2 linked regions of the Homo sapiens genome follow. Changing the gene in region 1 together with any one later gene gives a genetic interaction. Each region holds a gene or a part of one and is shown on either strand. Other genes may lie near its edges.

Region 1 (7,671 bases):
TTCTCTTTTCTGCTGATTTACACTTTATTTTCTATGCATTTCTGGTCATTTCTATATGTGTATAGATAATTTTCATAACACTATATATGTTTTCACTGAAAAGAACCTGTTATTTAGGAATCTTCACAAAGAGTGAAGAGCATGACAAAAAGTACATAATAAGAGAATAGTGCAGGTTTTATACTCCTTATTTGCATTTAACTGTTTTAACAACTATCACCTCAAAATAAAAAGGAGGTGAATAGCAAATTTGTTAAGTTTTTGCTGTTTGGAGACAGTAAGAGATGAAGAGATGCTACTAAGCCCTCTGAATACCAAACTGGAATAATAATAAAGCTGTCTTTTAAAATAACATGCTTGTGCCTGTCAGTAGCTGCTTTATTTGAGTTTTTCATTGCTTTGTTTATATTAGTGCCCCCTCCCTCCTGGGTGCCTCTAGAATTAAACAAGCAGGTATTTACCACCAACTTAATCTTTAGTTTTAAAAATATAGACCAAACTCTAAGGTTCTCTAAATTTTTTATATTTATTTATTGCAGAAAAATATACAAAGATATTTACAAAACAATCATAAAAATATGAATGCATTTAGACACCGGATCTATTTGCATTTTACCATGGGTCCTCAATAAATAAATAGAATGTTGTTTTTTGTATTTTAAGTTTTTTTTTGTTTTTCCCCTCAGAGGAAGGATGAAAAAAAGAATTAACTGACTATGGTTTTGCAGGCCAGTTTGATCCCAGTATTTTTATTTCTAAAGGTGTTCTTATAGTTCCTCTGATTGTTACCATTTTAAAATAGAGAAAGTCCATAGTGATGCCTTTCCTTTCAGTGGCTGATTGGCACGACCTCTTGAGAATGCATGCATGAAAAAAATAAAAATAAAAACATTCTTCGTCAAAAAAAAAAAAAAAAAAAACACAAACAACTGTTCAGACTTCTATCAGAATGCAGAGGTGTGAGGATGGTGCCGCTGCCCGTCTGGGAATCACTGTCCACGGGCCTGTCTCGCTTTCTCTTTTAAAAGTGCGCCCCACGCCCTGTTTCTTTGAATTTGGATTTTGCTCTTCTAATTTCCAAGAAAATCTTTGGCATATATTTTTATTTTTAGTTATCCAGCTCCAGAGTCTCTAGACTGTCCATTTTCTCCTTCTCTGGAAACAATGACATCTGCAAAAACCCAGAGGGGGGGGGGGGAGTCGGTTATTGTTTAGGTCTCTGCGGCTGTTTTCTAAGACTAGTGAGCACTGTTCTTATCACCACCACTGAGAAATTAAGCTGAACAACCTGGAAGGATTTCAGCCCAAGGGCAAGAGGAAGTGGGTGGGTGGAAAGGAGGAGGAGGTGGAATTTGTTTTAAAACATTTGTTTTAAGGAGAACAAAAATTGAAAGCCGAAAGAAAGGGTGGCGCTGACAAAACGGTCCTTACCCGTGACCCTGGGTGTCTCTGTCTCCCCTCCTGTCACGCACACTCACGCGCACACACACCCCTCACCAGGGCGCATCCCCCTGGAGACTGCTCTCCCTAGCGGGGTCAGACCGGCCTTCCGGGGACGCTGGGGGCGCGAGGCAACGGTGCCAAGTGAGGTGGGAAGGCTGAGCGGAGAGTGGGAGAGGGGAGGAAATCGAGGTGGACTGGGAACCGCGGCCTGGCCGGCCTGCCGTCTGCCACCTGAGAGGCGAAGGGGTGCAGCGGCGCGGTCCTTACCTAGGTCTCCGGCCCTGCTGAGGGGGTGGGGGGCTCCGCCTGCTAGTGGGACGCGGACATGGACCAGGCCCCCTCCATCCTCCAGACCGAGAAGGCGTAGCTGAGCCGCTCGTGAGCCACATAGCTGCAGCTTGCCATCTTGGAGTCCAGCTCGTCGCTCTGGAGGACCTGGTAGAGGAAGTCGATGTACCTGGCCGCCAGCTTGAGGGTCTGAATCTTGCTCAGCTTGTCCGAGGGCAGCGTGGGGATGATCTTCCGCAGCGCGGCGAACGCCTCGTTCAGCGACTGGGTGCGCTGGCGCTCCCGCACGTTGGCCATGACCCGCTGCGTCTGCAGCTCCTCGTAAGACTGCGGACTCCCGCCGCCGCTGCTGCTGCCGCCGCCGCCGCCCGCGCCGCCGCCGCCGCCACAGCCCGCAGACTTCTTGCCGCGCTTGCCCTGGGCCGGGCTGCCCGGCTCGTCGCCGCCTCCGACGCCCCCACCCGCGGCTCCGCCGGGCCCCGCGCCGCCGCCCGCGCTGCGCCTGCTGCTGCGCCGCTTGCGTCCCCCGCGCTTGCCGCTCGGCGGCTGCTGCCGGTCTGGCTCTTCCTCGCTGTTGCTCAGGCTGTCGTCGGCCGGCGAGACTGGCGAGCTGGACACGTCCTGCATCATCTCTCGAGCGGCGACGCGTGGCCTCGCGGGCCCGGGGCAGAGGAGAAGAGCGGGGCGCCTCAGCCCGCCAGCTTCCCCCGCGCGCGGCGCCGGCCCGGGCGATGCGGCCCGCGGAGGAGAGAGCAGGAGGACGGACGGGAGGGACCTCCGCGGGGAGGGCGCGCGGGGGAGGCGGGGAGGGAGGCGGGAGGGGGAGGGGACGGTGTGGATGGCCCCGAGGTCCAAAAAGAAAGCGCCCAACGGCTGGACGCACACCCCGCCAGGCCTCCTGGAAACGGTGCCGGTGCTGCAGAGCCCGCGAGGTGTCTGGGAGTTGGGCGAGAGCTGCAGACTTGGAGGCTCTTATACCTCCGTGCAGGCGGAAAGTTTGGGGGCAGCAGTGTCATTGGCCTGACGTGAGGAGGAGGGACTTTTCGAAGTTTTATAGGAAAGTTTCCGCTTTCCAGTCCCCCTCCCCCGTCCCACCTCCCTTCCTCGGGGTCTAACAATTCGTCCTCCCAAACCATTCAAAAACGACCTGGCCCGGGCGGCCGGCCCCTCCACCCGCCTCCTAGCCGCCCTCCCCCTTCCCTCCCCGTCGCCTTCCTCCGGCGGGCGCGGGGCGATTTCCTTCCCCGCCGGAGCGTGCGGGCAGCGCCCCCGAACCCTAGCGCAGCCCAGGAAGCGGTCGGAGGAGACTGTCCTGGCCGCGGTGGCAGCCCCATCCGGAGTGGCTGTGACAGCAGCAATGGCAACAGCTTCTACACAGTGGGTGATGTCTCATCTCGCCCAAGAGCCCTCTAGGTCCGTGGGGCCGATTTGGGATTGCTGGGGCTGGGGGGGTGGTGTGGCGCGGGGTGGGGGGGCATGCCAAGAAAAGTGTCAACCGCGGAGCCCACCCAATGGTCAGGTAGACGAACCCCTTGGAGTTCCAAAGGCCAAACCGCGGCGGCCCAGCCCGGAGGTCCTGGGCGTTTCTGAAGACGTGGCCGCGCCGCGGGGGCTGAGGATTTGCGTCCCGGCCTGCTCTCTCGCCCTTCTGGGCCCTCCTTTCCCCTCTACAACGACCCAGTCTGACGCTCCCCAACATCCAAAGGACTACGCCTCGGAAGGTGCTCGAAAGAGGCAGAAGTTCACTCTTCGGTGGAAGGAAACCCAGTCCATGGGAAAGGCAGCAGAGCCAGAGGGGGGCAGCGCAGCGCCTTTGCTGCGGCCCTAACAGCTGGCAATGCCAACCCAAGGGAGAGACCCTGTGGCCATTTCATCCCCACCCCCAAATTAGGCTCCGCATTGTGACCTTGAAAGGCCAGCTTGTAAGAGAGTGAAGTGGGAATTTGATAGCGCCTAGACATAGGGGCTGCCCGCTCTGAGACCCCCCCCGCCCCAGCCCCCACTATCTAGGGCATCCAGTGGACAATTAGGCTTCGTGAGCCCCAATTCCAAATGCTTGGATACGCTAACATTTTAAGCATTTCTGTCTGTAAGTTAAAACGAAGAGCCCCAAAGAGGGTGTTAATGTAGATCCTGGCAAACTGGAAGCAGCAAAGTTGGTGAACCAGAAAGGAAGTCGCCTTGGATAAGAAGCCCATCTTTTGCAATGCCATACTTGTTTCCTTTTTGAAATGAATTGAGGTAAAATAACCGTTTCAGGTCCATCCCTTACATGGCAAAGTAAAAAGCTGGAGTCAGTACACAGTGTTGGGGTGGGGGCAGCGTTTGGGGGCGACGAGTTTTGTGCACCGCGCTGGAGTACCCTGCACATAAGGTCCGCTCATGGGCTTCTCAGTACGGACTCGCCGGCGGGAACAATTAATTGAGCAAAGCGCCCCTTTCTGGGCTGGAGCAAGGTTCGCGGCTGCAGATATCTCAAGCTGAAGGCAAGAGCCCAGGCGAGGCGCAGGCAGGCCACGTGGCTGTTCCCTGCTGAGACTCGCAGCTTTGGTCTTGGAAACCTCAGGGTGTGGAGCTGCTTGGGCCGACTGAAGGGTTCAGCTTTTTGGGAGAAGTGAGGGCGAGTGTTATTTCTCCAGCGAGGTGTAAACAAGACTGTGCTTTCATGGGAGGGACAAATTGCAGAGTTGATCCCTTACCATTTTTACAGAAATACTCAGAAAGTGACTACAGCTTGTCAACTGGCCTGTTTAGTGAGCCGCTGCCTTACTGTAAAATTGTCTGAAAATCAGATTCGACTTGACCTCCACTTAATTTCAGTAGCACTCTAGCAGTTCTCAAAACAGTCACCCCTGCACCCTTGCGTTTGCATCTTCCGCTACAGGATTTTATCTCTTGGAAGCGCTTAGAGAATGCGGCAGAAATTCTGCCCCACTCTCCACCAAGTGTTCTTTTTGTAAATCTGAATTTACAGTATTCTGCAATTCTTATTTAGAACGTGGCTGCAGAAATCTCGAAACCTTTTCCACTTCAGCTATTTTTTTAAAGATAAATCTTATTTTTGTTTTGTTCTTTTTTTCTCTTTTCTCAAAAATAAATAAAGAGATCGAATGATTGGACTCTTTCCTTTGTGGCCACGGATAAGTAAGACAGGAAAGTGTGGGTAAAGTGTAAAGGAAATCTTACCTGACCAAGGGGAATTTGGGAAGGGGAGGGGAGCGGACAAGCTAGAGGAGAAACCAAGTCCACAGCAGCGCAGCAGCCAGGGGTCATTAGCCAGTCCATCTTGCAAAGTCATCAGTCTCAAAGACTGGTTCTTAAACAAGTGAGCCCAGCCCTTTTCCCGGCACTAAACTTCTAGCTGATGAAGAGCTCCTGGCCATTGGGTACAGGGATCCCCGCAAGGCTCAGGCGACGCTCTGATGCCAGAATACTGAGAGGGGAATTCAAAATGAACACCTAACCAGAACCATCCTGCCCATGGACTCTTTCAGCCACAGTCACAATTGATGACTAGTTCTAAGAAGAAATGGCTCTTGAACTGTTCCGGGGAGTGGAGGATGAGACGACTTTTGAGTTCTTAAGTGGGGCTTGAATGTTACTTTTGGAGCAAAAGTAGTCCAGGAGGTACCTCTCAAAAAATGGCTGGAGCTAGATACTCCCTGCTTTGCAAACTGCAACACGCCCTGGCTGACGAGTCCAGTCTGCTCATATACAGCTCTTTCTTATCTAACATTTTACCTAACAATTTTCTTTTCCACATTTGCAAGGATGGCTCCCTTTTTACTTGTTGACAGGTCAGGTATAATTCTGGATTCTCTTATATATGCAACAATAATTGCAACTTCTGCAATGTTTAGTTTAAATTTGAAAGCTTCTTTCTAAAATCCCAATCTTGAGATCATGAAAACAATCTTAGAAATTTTCTTTTGAGGCTGAAGTTAGCCTAACTGGAAGTATGTCAGTGGGGACTACCTTCTTTGGGAATGCTAGATTAACTGGAATTCAGTCATTTTGCCTCCTTCTAAAGTAAAGTCCTCCCCAAAAAAATTTAACTGAAAAAAAAAATTTCTTTTGTACTTGGATAGTTCAAAACGATCTTTGTTTTCAAACTGCAAACTTGGCATGTTTGCAATCCTGCCTGAGGAATGTGTGCTGTGTTAAAAATTGAAACAAAAAATACTGTTAAAAGTAACAGAGTTAGAAATCTCACATTGAACATATACAATAAGTATTAAGTATCCTGGCAGTTTGAATATGCTGTGACATTCTCTTAGCAACAACCAATTATAAATACTTTTAGATACGGAAAAGAAACACACACTATAGAATGGTTAGCCAACTGGTAAATTCTGGAGTTTGGGCTTGCATAAAAGGTGAGTACCTCAATCTGTTCCTACTCTTCTTTCTCCTCAGACCTTAGATGGCCTATCACCTGTTTGTTGGCTCCGAGTTCTGAGAAATAATTTATCTGAATTGCATAAATAGTGCACAGGAGCATTCGCACGGAAGGGAGTGAAAATTAGAAAGGCTGCAATTGAGTGAATATCAGATGAGGTTGTATATCTTAGATTTCATCTTGCTTTGAACACTCCAGAGGGACTGCTGTTTAAATGAGAGAATTTTAGTAAGGTGGAATATAAAGTCATGTATGTCAACACAATAACTGTGTAAAAGCTTATTCTTCTTTCATGACCCTGGTAGCCTTAATGATGTTTGAACACCTTTCCCTATATAAAAACTCATTCTCTTTCTCTTTAAATGATGATTTGATTCATAAACTCAACTGATTCTACATTTTTCTATCTGAATATCTTTAAAAGTAAAAAAAACAAACTAAAGTTATAAAATGTGAAGTTTTCAATCCAGAAATAAAACGAAAAAGTAAAAAACACAATAAATTAGGGTGCGAACAGTACCGCAAGTGAAATTTTCAAATAAATGTTAATCTTTAAAATAGCTGACATTCTGAACTCAGCTTAAGGATGGGATGAGGAGACATAGGTCTAACCTGTAGAAAGTGCAGGATCAGAATATGGAAAAGTATGGAGTCTTGAAGAGCATTTTTTTTTTTCATTTTTTTTTTCAGGGGTTGTGCAGGCTGGAGAGTTGGTGTCTTAGCTGCCCATTAACCTTGTTGGAAAACACACTCACTTCACTTGTATCAAAGAGTTGCTGGAATAACTGATGAAAGAATGCAAGAAATAAATAGTTATTCATAGGAACTATTATCATGGTCTCAGTCTTTCTACATAGCATTATGTGTCTTCTTTTTAATCATCCGATGACCAGTAATTTAAATATAAATGGAATGATTTACATTCTATGTTTTTTCAATTCAATTTCTCTTTCTGATTACTCATAACTTTCACCTTTCTTCACTGGAAGGGATTTCCGTTTTTCACAAATGGGTTTTCCTGAAGCCTTATGTCCTGCTGCTATTGTTTGGTTTGGTTCTTTCTGCAGAAAACATGTTGTTTTTGCCAGTCACCACAAGAGGACACAATTTCCCAGATAACTTTGTTTAGAAAGAAGCTCAGAGAAGAGGAAAGCTAACAAAACAGCAAAAATAACACACAATTAATGAATATCATTTGGAGATGTCTATTTGATTTATGCCATTTTTATTAATTAAAAAAACATGAGTTAGCATTCAAACTTTTGAAGATTTTATAATTTGTACTTTCTTAGAACATAAAGAAAATATACTAAATATACTAATGTAGTTAAGGGAAAATGTTTATTTTACGTTGACATAATTTTGTAGAAAACTCTTGGTGACTTTGAATTTTACTTAATTCCATGTTTGGCAATGAAAAACAGTTTATTTTTTTTTTCTAAAAGATTTTTCAAAATGCCATTAACAGTTTGAATTTCTACTTCAGGCATTTGGGTTGTCTTTACATTGAAAACTATATGAAAACTATGTTTTATAGTTTT
Region 2 (7,022 bases), on another chromosome or scaffold:
TGGTCAGGCTGGTCTCAAACTCCTGACCTCAGGTAATCTACCTGTCTCGGCCTCCCAAAGTGCTGGGATTATAGGTGTGAGCCACCATACCCTGCTGACTTCTGCCTCATTCTGTCGTCCAAAGCAAGTCACGTAGTTGAACTCAGAGTTGAGAGGTGGAGAAGTGGAAAAAGGTAGTCTATTCCTTTCGTAGGAATAACTGCAAAGTCACATAGCAAAGAGTGTAGATACCAGGAGGGTAAAGAATTTGGCCATTAATGTAATCTACCACATGGGCAAAAATATCTCTTGAGCCTAGAAGCATTTCACAGTTAGAGAATGTTTTGAAGGTTGCATTTCTGTCCACAGACTTGACGTCAGACAAATCTTGGATGTGACCAAATTTTTAAATAAAAGAAGTACCATGAAAGAGGGAAAGAAGAGGACCTTATAATATAAGAAGTGCCATATATTTAGCATATGCCACCATTCCCTTTCACTTCCAAGGGAGATATCACTAATTCATGCAGAAACTCTTTACCAGTGAGCTTGGATTCAGCCTCAGACTTTTTAAAAAAAATCATAAACACCATTAGCAGTCTAACAAGCAGAGGGCATATCAAGTACAAACCCCAGCTACGAAATAAATAGTTTTCAGCATTACTCTTAGGGAATCATGGAATTTGAGGACTTATTGGTCAGATGTCTGAAAATATTGTTACTTGTCTCCAAAAACAAACAACAAAAAATTGTAAAAAAAAGAACTCGACAAAAGTGATTTAGTAAATAATATGTAATACTTCTGGAAGAATCGTCTACAGTCAAGTTACTTTATACTGTTCTGCTCCTTTTCAACTAGAGATAGTGAGAATGCTATGTGGAGAATGTTATATTGAGATAGCAGTGGGATTCACATGTGAGGAAATAAATTAGATCTAGACATCTTAAAAATTCAAAAAATTTACTTGTAAAAATAAATACATGTTATGTCTGGAAAAAACTGGAAAAACCAAACATGAGAATAGAAAGGAGAAAAAAACTACCATGCAATCTCATGAGGAAAGCGGAAGAAAGTTCTCTCTGCCTTTGCATGGCTCTCCTATTGTGTGGAATGGTGAGATTGCATCTACTTGATAGGCTAGTGGTCCTGCTCACTTTGTGAGGCATCATTTTAGGGCAAAAAAGCATTGTAAAAGATAAAGTGTGTCATTTTATAATAGAAAATTAAATCCATAAATTTGTTTATTAAAAATAATTTATGGTATATTTCAAATATATAGCTATATATACATAATATATATGCATACATACACATATGCATATGTGTGTGTGTGTGTGTGTGTGTGTGTGTGTGTGTGTGTGTGTGTGTGTGTATAGCCAAGCCCAGCACAGAGATTCCAATCAGTGGGTAGACTCATGAACAAGCCTGCCAAGATTGAATGAGATGAGCTGAAATCAGCCACCCATCAGGAAACATACGAAATGAATGAGCTATGATAGTAAGTTATTATGGTTTAAGACTCATTTGGGGTTGGTTTATTACATAGCAATAACTAACCAATAAAGCCCAAAGCCTAATGCAAACTGATTTCCGTACATATATGGTGGGGTGCCGGTGGGGGCGGGGTGGAATTAACATGACTACAAGGAGAAATAATCAAATCAACCAACGGTTGAGGCTTTAAACAAACAACTGAGTAATTCATAGGTCAAACAGACAAAAATATCAGTAAGGCTCTTACTGATATCCATACAACATGATCTGTAAGCTGAAGCTAATGGAGTTATAGAGATCAAAATATGAAAATACACATTCTTTCCAAGAAGACACTGCACATTTACAAAAGATTGGTCTTATTTTAGGTCATAAGGTAAAAATTTCAATCCATTTTGACGTTTTGGTGTCATATGGACCATGTTCTCTGACCTTGAAGAGACTATATTAGAGAGTACTAACAAACAATAGCTAGAATCACCCCTTTGCATTTGCAGATGAAGGAACATGTGCCTTAATATTTCATGTATCTAGTTAAAAATCATCATAGAAAGTAGAAAATATTCACAATGAATTGGGTTGGCAGTTATTGTGAGCTCACAATGGCTCTCTTTCCTGTCTTCCTTTGTCACCCCTTCCCCTGGTGGTAAAGATAGAGTTGACCTCCATGCCCATCAATGCTGTTAGAAAATTAGTTGGCGTGTATTATTTGTTTTGTGTTTAGAACCACCCATTGTTTGCCTTTTATTTTGATCATCATAGGAGAAAAGAGGAAAATGACTGATTCTCATGTTCTGGAGGAGGCCAAGAAACCCCGAGTTATGGGGGATATTCCGATGGAATTAATCAACGAGGTTATGTCTACCATCACGGACCCTGCAGCAATGCTTGGACCAGAGGTCAGCAGGGTAAACCTGGGCAGCCAGCTGGTAGACCTCTTCTGCTCTCCTGGCCACTCCAGCTGTCAGAAGTGGGGATGCTAATGCTGAGAGTTAACATGTTATGCTACCCTGGTTTGCATTTAACCTGGTGGTCAGTGTGGAGAGGGCAGGAACAACTGATCAAGAGGTAATTCCCCTTGATGAATATCACATCACAGGTCCACTTACTAATAATCTCACAGTTGAAGGCATCATTCCCAGCTTTTTATCTTGAAAAATTTCAAGCCCTCATAAATGTTGCAGAAATTCTGTAATAAAAATCCATAGACTCTTTACTGAGATTCAGCAGTTAACATTATGCCACATTTGCTACCTCTCTTTCTCTCTGCGCCTCCCCATATGCTCTTTTTCTTTCTCTCCCCACTCCCCATGAACCATTTGGAACCATTTCAGAATTAAAAACACATGTCATAATACTTCACCCCTAACTATTTTTGCATGTACTGTATCTCATAAGGAAGCTATTCTCTTACATAACCACAATGCAGTCATTACTCTTAGAAAATTTAGCCTGGTTACAATATTTTCTAATACAGGGTTGGTGAATTACAGCCTGCAAGCCAAATCTGCTCCACTGGCTGTTTTTTTCAAATAAAGTTTTATTGAAACATATTGTTTGCAGCTGTCTTTGCATTACAACAGTAAATTTGAATAATTGAGACAGGGAATGTGTGGCTTGCAAAGTATGAAATATTTATTATCTGGCTTTTCACTGAAAAGTTTGCTGACCTCTGGCCTAATATAAAACCGTATTTAAATTTCCCATATAGCCAGATGATGTCAGTTATAACCTTTGTTGTTGTTGAAGGATCAGTTAGGGATTGTGCATTGCATTTAATTCTTATCTCTTCATTTGTTTAGTCTCCTTTAAAACAACTCCCCAGCCTTGTTTTGGTCTTTTGCAGCACTGCCATTGGTGAAGAGTCTTGGTCGCTAGTTTTGTATAAGGTCCCTCTTTTTGGATTTGTTGATTGTTTACTAAGGATTAGATTCAAGTAAGGCATTTTTGGTAAAAATGCTGCTGTCATCTCATTGCCTTGCATCTGAGGGCATGCAAGGCAATGACATTTCTTAAGACATACCTGTCTTAAGACATTTCTGACAGCTTCCAGGAAATGAAGAAATGGCTTGGAGATTATATTACAGTGTTAATTTTCAATTTGTCATGTTTCTTTAAATATTTATTTTATGACATTGAGGATACTTCAGAGAACCAGAATGTTGTAATAGAAAAATCTCTTCCTAAAATTGATCTTTCCATTTCCTCCTAGATGTCCAGTCTGTGAGGGCTTAAGACTATAGTTTTTTAGGGATTTAGTAACATTACAGATTAGCTGAGTTTAGGTTTTTTTCAGCTATAAAATGGGGATTTGTACTAGTCTATTGCATTGCTACAAAGAAATACCTGAGACTGGGTAATTTATTTTTTTAAAAAAGAGCTTTAATTGGCTCACAGTTCCACAGACTGTACAAGAATGGCATCAGCATCTGCTCAGCTTCTGGGGAGGCCTCAGGGAACTTATACTCATGGTGCAGGGTGAAGTGGGAGCAGGCACATCACATGGTGAGAGAGGGAACAAGAGAGTGAGGAGGAGGAGCCAGACCCCTTTAAACCACCAAATCTCATATGAACTAACTGAGCAATAACTCATTCATCAACAAGGGGATGGTGCTAGGCCATTCATGAGGGGTCTGCCCTGATGATCCAACACTTCCCACTAGGCCCCACCTCCAACATTGGAGATTGCATTTCAGCATGAGATTTGGAGGGGTCACACATTCAAACTACATCAGGATGCAGTCACATGTTTGAAAATATTTTGGATATATTAATATTTAGTAGTGTACTAGAGCTGGCTTGTACTGGAATGCACAAGAAAATTGTTAAATTTTCAGGAGTTTTGTGAGCTGGTTGTTCCATATGTTGGTAGCTTGAAGTTGACTAGCATGGCACCTGGTTACCTGGATAGCCAGTTCTGGACTAATGAGATGAAGTGTCACCAGTTAGGGCCTTCCTTCCTTGAAGAGCTGTTTGTGGAGCATCTACTTGCAAACCACTAGGCAGATTAAATAAGATGGGGAGCATAAGTGCTGGCACATGGTTGTGCTTCCAGCTATGGTTGAGTGTAGGTCAACAGATATTCTCTGGAAAGAAAACTGTTCTTTAAAAAGAGGTGTTAAGAATATATACATGAGGCCGGGCGCGGTGGCTCAGCCTGTAATCCCAGCACTTTGGGAGGCCGAGGCGGGCAGATCACGAGGTCAGGAGATCGAGACCATCTTGGCTAACACGGTGAAACCCCGTCTCTACTAAAAAATACAAAAAATTAGCTGGGCGCCGTGGCAGGCTCCAGAGGCTGAGGCAGGAGAATGGCATGAACCCGGGAGGCGGAGCTTGCAGTGAGCTGAGATAGCGCCACTGCAGTCTGGCCTGGGCGAAAGAGCGAGACTCCGTCTCAGAAAAAAAAAAAAAAAAAAAGAATATATACATGAGTGCTACTATTGGGCCTGTAATGAGAATTTGAATCTGTCATCTCAAGGGTCCTTAAAGCTCAGCTGGAGAGGATTCCTTGAAGCCAGAGGTTGGCAAACTATAACCCACAGGCCACATTTTGTCTGCTTACTGTATTTTTAAATAAAGTTTTATTGGAACAGTACTGCACCCATTCTTTAACATATTGTCTGTGGATGCTTTTGCATTATAGCAGAAGAAGGAGTAGTTGTGACAAACACCTTATGGCTCACAACGTCTAAAATATTTTCTATCTGGCCCTTCACAGAAAACTTTGCTGGCCCCTAATCTACACTGAATATCATCCGTGTACACATATAATACTCCAATTTCTCAAAATGCTTTACCTGCCTTTTCTGTCTTGTCTTCATAACTTGTATGTGTATGTGTCTCTGTGTGTATGTGTGCACACATGTGTATTTAGGACTCTGAAAATCCACAAATGTGTATCTTATTAGAACAAAGATGAGAAGCTTGGATGTGTCCCATCCCCACTGTCTTGAGAGAATAGCTCTGTGTAATTTTTTCCTGTCTCTTGCATCTCAGACCAATTTTCTGTCAGCACACTCGGCCAGGGATGAGGCGGCAAGGTTGGAAGAGCGCAGGGGTGTAATTGAATTTCACGTGGTTGGCAATTCCCTCAACCAGAAACCAAACAAGAAGATCCTGATGTGGCTGGTTGGCCTACAGAACGTTTTCTCCCACCAGCTGCCCCGAATGCCAAAAGAATACATCACACGGCTCGTCTTTGACCCGTAAGTGGTACTTTCTGTTCCTTCTTCCTTATTTCCTTTTTAAATGAAAGAGGAACTGCTTAGATAGTGAAAGTCAGCCATAGTCATCCACCGAATACTACTGCACCTGTCTTGCTGTGGATACAGAGCTTCACCAAGCTGATTTTCATGTCTGAAAGTGCTAAGAGTAATTTTCAACAATTTACAAATTTTCTTGTTAATGATGATGAAACTTTATATTTTACATTGCTGATGACTCTCCTGTGCTTCATTCTTTATAGCAGTGAGAGAATGTAACACTAAGATGTTCTGCTTTCTTCATAATCAAAATATTGGTTTTGGTATCTTAACTAGGTGCCATTATTGCCCAGGTCTGTGGGCAATTATTGGGATATAAGACAGGTTAACTTTGAAAATCCATTGCTTAAAAAAAAAAAACAAAAAACTAGGCCGGGCATGGTGGCTCATGCCTGTAATCCCAGCATTTTGGGAGGCTGAGGTGGGAGGATCACCTGAGGTTGAGAGTTTGTGACCAGCCTGACCAACATGGAGAAACCCCGTCTCTACTAAAAATACAAAATTAGCCAGGCCTGGTGACACATGCCTGTAATCACGGCTACTTGGGAGGCTGAGGCAGGAGAATTGCTTGAACCCAGGAGGCGGAGGTTGTGGTGAGCCGAGACCGTGCCATTGCACTCCAGCCTGGGCAACAGAGCGAAACTCCATTTCAAAAAAAAAAAAAAAAAAACCCACGAAACCCTAAAGAACTAAACTTCTCTAATTGAATTTATTTTAACATACATAGCCCAGTAGCCTATGGGGACTGTGATCCATGCCTGTGACAATTCAGAGTGATGCTTTAGACAGAGGGAAGGATTCCATAATGCGGAATTTTGCAAATTGTATATGTAAATTTTAAATTCTTTTTCATAATGTTTCTGTAATATTTTGGAGTAAGACTTAACTCTTCAGAGACACATACCATGTTTGTCCATGACTTCCTGCTCTCCCTGACCCCTCCTTGGCACTGGCTGTGCCAGTTCCAGAGCACCTCTGCACATACTCTGTTCTCTATTTGTAAACCTCAGGCACTTCTTAGGTGACTGGTATTTTGTTCTGATGGGAGTGCTGATGACATCTTGTGCAGGCGACCTAGCTCTAAAAAGTTCAGATAAAAGGATGGTCTAGCGAGATAGGGGCTACATGAAGGAAGTTTCTATAGAAACTTAGGACATGTCCCTCTTTCTTAGTTGGTTAATAAGGAACACCCCAAAAAGTATATTTATATAACTAGGATAGGTAAAACTTTGACATAATCTTATTCTTTCAGGAAACACAAAACCCTTGCTTTAATTAAAGAT

Evidence for each region. Genes that interact genetically often act in the same process or in processes that back each other up.
Region 2: of TWIST1 (region 1) and KAT2B, changing one suppresses a phenotype caused by changing the other (phenotypic suppression), as found in Homo sapiens cells (one study listed by BioGRID).

The regions. Positions count from the first base shown.
Region 1 is NC_000007.14:19,114,961-19,122,631, forward strand, and holds TWIST1 (twist-related protein 1), read right to left. Parts: upstream 2,677-7,671; 5' UTR 2,362-2,676; coding exon 1,753-2,361; 3' UTR 1,711-1,752; intron 1,172-1,710; 3' UTR 508-1,171; downstream 1-507. UniProt on the Homo sapiens protein: Acts as a transcriptional regulator. Inhibits myogenesis by sequestrating E proteins, inhibiting trans-activation by MEF2, and inhibiting DNA-binding by MYOD1 through physical interaction. This interaction probably involves the basic domains of both proteins.
Region 2 is NC_000003.12:20,120,432-20,127,453, forward strand, and holds part of KAT2B (histone acetyltransferase KAT2B), read left to right. Parts: intron 1-2,236; coding exon 2,237-2,373; intron 2,374-5,473; coding exon 5,474-5,682; intron 5,683-6,991; coding exon 6,992-7,022. UniProt on the Homo sapiens protein: Functions as a histone acetyltransferase (HAT) to promote transcriptional activation. Has significant histone acetyltransferase activity with core histones (H3 and H4), and also with nucleosome core particles.